Linked DNA regions of Homo sapiens. The protein of the gene in region 1 interacts with the protein of each later gene in a pairwise test. Each region holds a gene or a part of one and is shown on either strand. Other genes may lie near its edges.

Region 1 (3,916 bases):
ACTATGAAAAGTTGTTATAGTATAATGAAAAAACGGTTTCTTAAAAATTTATGTGTTGGGCTGGACATGGTGGCTCACATCTGTATCCTAGCACTTTGGGAGGATTGCTTGACCCAGGAGTTTGAGACTAGCCTGGGCAACATGGTGAGACTCTCTCTCTAGAAGAAAAACAAAAAATTAGCTAGGTGTGGTGATGCACACCCGTGCTCCCAGCTACTCAGGAGGGTGAGGCAGGAAGATCACTTGAGCCTGGGAGGTTGAGGCTGCAGTGAACCGAGATCACGCCATTGCATTCCAGCCTGGGCAACGGAGTGAGATCCTGTCTCAAAAAAACCCCAAAGAAACAAAAAAACAAAAAAAAACCAACTATGCGGAGCCAGGCATGGTGGCATGTGCCTGTAATTCCAGCTACTGGGATACCAAAAAAATTCTATGTGAAGGGTGAATTATATGGTATGTGAGTTATATCTCAATAAAGCTGTTATAAAAACAAATCTATGTGAACATGACAGTATAGCATAATGGTGGAAAGAATGTGTTTGAGAACTATGTAGACTTGGTTTTATATACCTACCTCTTGCCAGATAAGTGACCTTGGGCAAGTTATAGAACTAACTTCTCTGACTTTCAGTATCCTCATCTATAAATAAGAAATGTTTGTTATGAGTTTTTTTGTTTGCTTTTTTCTTTTTCAGAGATAGAATCTTGCTCTGTCACCCAGGCTGGAGTGCAGTGGCGGAATCTCGGCTCACTGCAAACTCCATCTCCCAGGTTCAAGCATTTCTCATGCCTCTGCCTCCTGAGTAGCTGCGACTACTGGCGCAAGCCATCATGCTCGGCTAATTTTTTGTATTTTTAATAGAGACAGGGTTTCGTCATGTTGCCAGGCTGGTCTCGAACTCCTGACCTCAGACAGTCTGCCCGCCTTGGCCTCCCAAAGTGCTGGGATTACAGGTTATGAGCCACTATACCTGGTCTGTTATGAGTTTCAAATGAAATTAAATGAGATAATTTATGTTCATCACTTATCAAGTCTTTTGTAATTAATAAGCCCTCAGTAGTGGGTAGATTTTATCATCATTAGCTTTTATAATCTAATTACACTTACATGCAAAAAATAAATTTTAAAAAGTTGAGCAAATATGGAATTAGCCACAGCTTGAAATATATGTGTCTTTTAACTCTGCTCTTTCATTCCTTGAAACCTGCAGCTGGTCATCAATGCTGCTTTGGGATTTGACACATTTGTTGTCATGAGACATGGTCTGAAGAAACCAAAGCAGCAAGGAGCTGGGGACTTGTGTCCAAACCACCCTGTGGCATCTGCTGACCTCCTGGGCTCATCGCTTTTTGCCAACATCCCTGGTTACAAGCTTGGCTGCTACTTCTGCAATGATGTGGTGGCCCCAGGAGATGTAAGTGGATTTCTCTATAGTTCCAAATATTTCCTATCACCAACTTGTACACTGAGGCAGACCGACTTGGCCCTTTCATTTATGACTATTTAAATATTATCTTTTAACAAAGAGAAGAATTCTCCAATTTGGGGAGGATGGCATTATCTCATTATGAACCTTGACTGGCGTCATCAACTGTACACCTGTTCCTTGTTCACCAATATAAACGCGGCTACAAACCATATTTTTGGAAAGCTTATTGAGGAAACCACAGCAGACTAGTCCCTGATAGCACTCCGTATTGTCTCCGGTGCTTCTCTTAGTCAAGATAACATTACAAATCAGGAGTCTAAAGACCAGATTCCATCAATGGCTTGACACTGCCTCCCAGGTAGTTCTAAAAAGTCTCTTAGGTTCCCTCTACCTTTGCAAAATAGGAGTGATGTGTAGGCTTGTCAGATTTAGTAAGTAAAAATATAGGATTCCCAGCTAACTTTGAATTTCAGTTAATAATGAATTCTTTTTTTTTTTTTTTTGAGACAGAGTTTCGCCCTGTCACCCAGGCTCGAGTGCAGTGGCACAATCTCGGCTCCCTGCAACCTCTGCCTCCTGGGTTCAAGTGATTCTCCTGCCTCAGCCTCCTGAGTAGCTGAGATTACAGGTGTGTGCCACCATGCCCAGCTAATTTTTGTATTTTTAGTAGAGACGGGGTTTCACCATGTTGGTCTGGCTGGTCTCGAACTCCTGACCTCGTGATCCACCTGCCTCAGTCTCCCAAAGTGCTGGGATTACAGGTGTGAGCCACCACGCTTAGCCAATAATGAATAATTTTTTGGTATATGTCCCATGCAATATTCAAGACCCACTTATACTAAAAATTTATTTATCTGAAATTCAAATTTAACTGAGTGTCTTGTATTCTCCCTAGCAATGCTAATAGAGGAGGGAAGAATACCTGCCCTGTCAACTCACAGTGCAAAGTGGGTCAAGTGCGACAGTGCTTTGAACAGCAAGACTACACTGTACAAATTAAGATTCTATGACTTTCAGAACTCCACACAAGTCAGTCTGTATGTAGGTCTGTTCCTTTATCAGAACAGATAACGATTTCCAGTGAAACAATGCAGAGATGTTTTCTGTAACCTCCCCTCTATTTTTCCTTTGTTTTAAAACTTTTCCCTTAATAACTCATATCTCTTTTGGATGACTGGCTTTTATGCCCTCCCAATATAAAGAAAAGAAGATGACCATTCTCTTTTATGGAGAAAGATGGCTTGATGATCTCTGTTATGGTGTTATAATATATAGCTGGTCTTGTTATTTAGTGATTGTCAACAAATACGATTAGTGGTCCCTTGCAGTAAAGTCCCATCTGCTCATAAGGTAAAATTTTTATAGAGTCAAAAATATCTCTAACAACCTCTTAATTTGCCCAGAGTTGGATGGTTAGACTCTCTTTGGTTGAACCAGCAAAGGCTTGTGCTTAGAGCCATGTTGTAGAAAAAAAAAATACTTGTAGTAAACCCTAGAATCACACAGAGAGGTGATGCCCATGTTGTGAGAGGCACATAGGAACTGAGGGCCGCAGGAATAGTAAATTGTTGCTCCCATCTCACGGTCACTTTGAGGTGTTAGCTCAGTTAAAATGGCAGGGCAGAATCATTTGCACTTTTCAAATCATTGTTCCTTTCTGTGTCTCTGTCACTTAACTACCAAGCACAGTAGAACTGAATTGAGTCACTTAAAGGAACACATGATGCAGTTCCATTATATGAGGCAGCTAAGCCCTCATTTTTGGTTAATATCCCCCAATCTGTTTAGGCTACTGATCCTTTTTAGCATATCACCTCATTTAGTTACCTAAATTGTATATTTTGTTTATCTTGATAATCTCAAGAAATGATGTACTTGAGGCTGGATGTTCTTTGCCAACAATGAGCATCTGGTTATAATTTAAAGCTTTGTCACAGAGGATTTCATACTTGAGACAGCTAGAGTTGAATGGAGTAGAACGTTCTGCACACACCAATGATTGTTTCTTTGCAGTCAACCAGAGACCGGACCTTGGACCAGCAGTGCACTGTGAGTCGTCCAGGACTGGCCGTGATTGCAGGAGCCCTGGCCGTGGAATTGATGGTATCTGTTTTGCAGCATCCAGAAGGGTGAGTTTGCTAGTAGGAGATGAGTATTTAAACAAAGCTTTTGTAGGCAGTTGTTCATCAGTGTCTCCCATGGCCTTTTCTCAGTCTGACTTTACAGAGAATTTCACTATTTCACCCTCAAAAAAACAAGACTAGAAAAAGCAGGTCTGGTTCTTTGGGCTGAGATAACTTGGCATGTTTCCTTTGTGGCCACATTTCTGCATCTTTCCGGACAAAGTCACTATGGTTTATTTTATTTTTCCAACGCTTATATAGGGCTTACTTTGTGCTAGGCACTGTTCTAAGCACCTTAGAAATTTTGCCTCCTTCAATCTTTTTTTTTTTTTTTAACGAGACGGAATTTCGCTCTTGTTGCCC
Region 2 (3,916 bases), on another chromosome or scaffold:
AAAGGAAAAGCAAAAGGCAACAGTTTCTTCTCCAAGACTACCCAGATCTTTTTCCATTTGCTAAAAACAATCAGGACACCCTTCTAAGATGTTGCTCTAAAACTAGCAATATCTTCTTCTGAAAGAATGCCACCTTTTTCCTTTACTTTTAAAAATAAAACATCGGCCGGGAGCGGTGGCTCACGCCAGTAATCTTAGCACTTTGAGAGGCCAAGGCAGGCGGATCACCTGAGGTCAGGAGTTTGAAACCAGCCTGGCCAACATGGCGAAACCGCCTCTCTATTAAAAATACAAAAAAATTAGTCGGGCGTGTTAGCTGGCGCCTGTAATCCCAGCTACTCGGGAGGCAGAGGTTGCAGTGAGCCGAGATCGCGCCACTGCACTCCAGCCTGGGTGACAAAGGGAGACTCGGTCTCAAAAAAAAAAAAAAAAAAAAAAAACAGGCCAGGTGAGGTGGCTCAGGCCTGTAATCCCGGCATTTTGGGAGGCCAAGGCGGGCGGATCACGAGGTCAGGAATTCAAGACCAGCCTGACCAACATGGTGAGACCCTTGTCTCTACTAAAAATACAAAAAGTAGCCTGGCGTGGTGGTGCGCGCCTGTAGTCCCAGCTACTCAGGAGGCTGACGCAGGAGAATCGCTTGAACCCGCGGGTGGAGGTCGCAGTGAGCCGAGATCGCGCCACTGCACTCCAGGCTGGGCGACAGGGTGAGACTCCGTCTCAAAACAAACAACAACAAAAAATCGGCCCTTAGCCCACTAATACTGTTTTCTCTGGGATACTCCCATTAAGTGGAACTTGGGGTTTCCAACCTCAGTCAGTAGTTTTCCTTCAGTAGTCCATATACTACATTTCCTGGGTCAATTAATTCCCAATTAGCCCAGAGATGAGGAGCAGTCCGCCAGCTGCTAGCCTCATAATTTTGTTTTCTTTATTGTCCTTCATTGCTTCAATGAACAGAACTTGCAAGAAATGGTGAAAAATACTTGCTTTTGTCCAGTTGGAAAAAGCTGGCATTCAGTAAACTAATTTAGTTCAAGACAGTGATCAGATCTCTTTCCTAAGGATGAATACATATTTGTAAAAACTGAGCAGTCAGTTATGTGTCATGATTATTCATAAGAGTGTAAACCAGTCCTGTTAACTCCAAAAAGCCATTAAAAAAAAAAAGGTCCAGATAATATGAGTTCATCCTTTCATGCGTTTTAGGCCCTACAACTACTTTCAATGCCTCTGCGAATGCCTTTATTGAAAGCATATTTGCCAAATCCAGCGTCCACGCAAAAAGTTAAGAGTATCCCCCTACTCTCCATTCAATCTTCAAATCTCCTTGGTGCCTCTCTCCCGCCTACCCTCGAATCACCGCACAAGGGTGATTCCCGGCACTCCACCCTGAGGTCCCCGCCTAGGTCCACGTACCAGAGCCCCGGCAGGAGACCCGCGGCCCGTCCCGACCAGCCCGCCCGCGGGGCGCAGGGGCCTGTAGGTGTGTCCCGCGCGCTCCGCCGCTCGGTCAGTCGCCCGCCAGACCACTAGCCCCTCCGTCGGGCCGAGAATCTGACCTGTCCCGCTCCCACCGAGCCCTTGCCGACCGGTAGTCTCCCTTCTCAACTCCGAGCCTCGGGGCCCGGCTTACCTCGGTCAGGAAGCCCCCTTCACCTACACGCAGCGGAGAAGCGCCCAAGCAACAACGTCTGCACCCAAACCCAGTCCTCAGAACCGCAGACGTGGCCCTGCGTGGCTTCCGGCTCGTCGCCACGCCCCCTGGCCAATCACGGCAGAGGACTATCCGCCAGCCCCGCCCCCGCCTCGCCGCAGGTCGCGCGCAGCTGGCGCCTGAGGAACTGCGGCTGCGGTTCCGAGCGGGGTCTGGGGCTGTTACCATTGAGTGACCAGAAAGGGTGAGGCCCCCGCGGTGGCCCGGGGGTTGGGGCCGAGGGTCGCGGGCCCTCAGAGCACTGCGGCCGCGGAGGCACAGCCTCCGCCTCCAAATCCGGGCCTCTGGGGGCGGCAGGCCCTGCGTTCCTGGGAAGCCGGGGTTCCTAGTGGTCTTGGCTAGGGGCGGGGGTGGGGAATCAGCCCCGTCGCTGGGCCTCGGACAGGGCGACCTCGCCCACAGTGAGCGCCGCCGGCGGCCCGCATCCCCCTCTCCGACGTCGAGGTCATCTCCCAAACCTTTGAATCTGGGAAGCCTTCTCCGGCTGCCGTCTCCCCGGGTACCCCCTTCCCCCAGCTCACTGTAAACATCTTTTATTTAATGACCTCTGAGACACCCCCTACCCTTATCCTGGGTCCCTCGGGGCAGAGGCCAGTGAATCGTAAACGTCCGGAGCCCTGGAATGCGGCCCAAGCGAAAAGGCCACCGCGGTGTTGGGGGGGGGCGGTCCGCGAGTCCAGGACCGAGGGGTGGCGACTGGCGCTGGGGAACTCGGAGCCCATCCTGCTGGCACTGCGGCCTCTCTCGCCGCAGCGTCTGGCTCCGCCCAAGCCCGAGCCCCGGGTGGGATTGGAAGCCGGGCCCCAGCCTTTCCCAGAATTCAGGCTTGCAGAGCGTCTGCAGGTGTCTGCCTGCCACCTGCAGCGGGACAGTTCCAAACACCTGTTGAAAGTGCAGATTCCCCTATCTAGTGCGGGGTGCGGGAGGCGGGAACCCGGAGCCCGGGTACGCAGAATATGGGTTTTTACGGAGTGTTTTAGAGGATGTTGTGCATACTAGATTTTGGAGTCAGGAAATAAAGAAGAGTGCAAGTGTCTGGTTTGTGCCCCTAGCTCTCGGTGCAAAGCGTTCCTGCAGAATTGCTTCCACGTAAAGGGACCTTCGGGAAATTTCGCTGGATACCGGCTGGCATTGACAAACCCAGCGTCCCTGAGCCTTGTGAGGTTTCCAGGCAGGCTGATTGCGAGGCAACATGTCTGCTTCGGTGAAAGAAAGCCTTCAGCTTCAGCTACTGGAGATGGAAATGCTGTTTTCTATGTTTCCTAACCAAGGAGAAGTAAAACTTGAAGATGTAAATGCCCTGACGAATATAAAGAGGTATTTGGAAGGCACAAGGGAGGCGCTGCCACCAAAAATCGAATTTGTAATTACACTCCAGATTGAAGAGCCCAAGGTAGGTACCCTGATTTAAGTGTTTGCCAGGTGCCCAGTTTTTAATTGAAACATCTAGAACATGAGCTTTCTGTCAAGGAAAGATAGAAATATTCCAGGTGCATATTTCCTTGTTTGAAAGATACGGAATGCTCTATAAATTGTCTTCAGTAAATATCTTTAATTTTATGTAAACATATACACCTTTTTAACAAATATACCTGGAGTTTTTATTGACGCTATCTTGCAGTCTTATGCCATTATTATTTTGTTCACCCATCCAGTTGGACTACCTTTCACATGTATCATGATTTTCATAAATCTAAATATCTCCTGTAACATAACTGTCTTTTAAGGAGTGAATGAGTGGATTTTTTGATGGCACCATAACACAGAAAGCAAATATGGATGGAAAAATCTAAAGACTAAAAATGAATTTACCTCCATCTTCTGATCCATTTATCTCCAGCAACATTAGCATAGCATAGGTAATACGTGGACTGGGCATTTGAGAACCACTGTTGTAGCTATTTCCTACTCATCCTTCAGTTGTTATTCCCTCAGAGGAGACTTTCTGGTTCTCCAGACTGGATTCTGTCCCGCTGGTTACACACTTCAATGGAACCCTCCACTTTTCCATGGTAATGCTTTTCACAATTGAAATTAAATACTTGCTATATGTAATTATTTGTTTAATGTGTGTCTCCTTCACTAGGCCCTGGACTTCATGAAGGGCAAAAATAGTGTCTGGTTTATTCACTTTTTTATCCCAGCACAAGGGCACCTGGCACACGTAGTTGTTCAATAAATATTGAAATAATGCATAAA

The links.
Region 2: the proteins of ATG7 (region 1) and RWDD2A interact in binary tests that used the Homo sapiens proteins (3 or more experiments, as listed by UniProt).

What each region holds. Positions count from the first base shown.
Region 1 is NC_000003.12:11,359,370-11,363,285, forward strand, and holds part of ATG7 (ubiquitin-like modifier-activating enzyme ATG7), read left to right. Parts: intron 1-1,211; coding exon 1,212-1,415; intron 1,416-3,443; coding exon 3,444-3,559; intron 3,560-3,916. UniProt on the Homo sapiens protein: E1-like activating enzyme involved in the 2 ubiquitin-like systems required for cytoplasm to vacuole transport (Cvt) and autophagy.
Region 2 is NC_000006.12:83,191,543-83,195,458, forward strand, and holds the start of RWDD2A (RWD domain-containing protein 2A), read left to right. Parts: upstream 1-1,814; 5' UTR 1,815-1,901; exon of another isoform or gene 1,902-2,769; 5' UTR 2,770-2,909; coding exon 2,910-3,110; exon of another isoform or gene 3,111-3,726; coding exon of another isoform or gene 3,727-3,729; intron 3,730-3,916.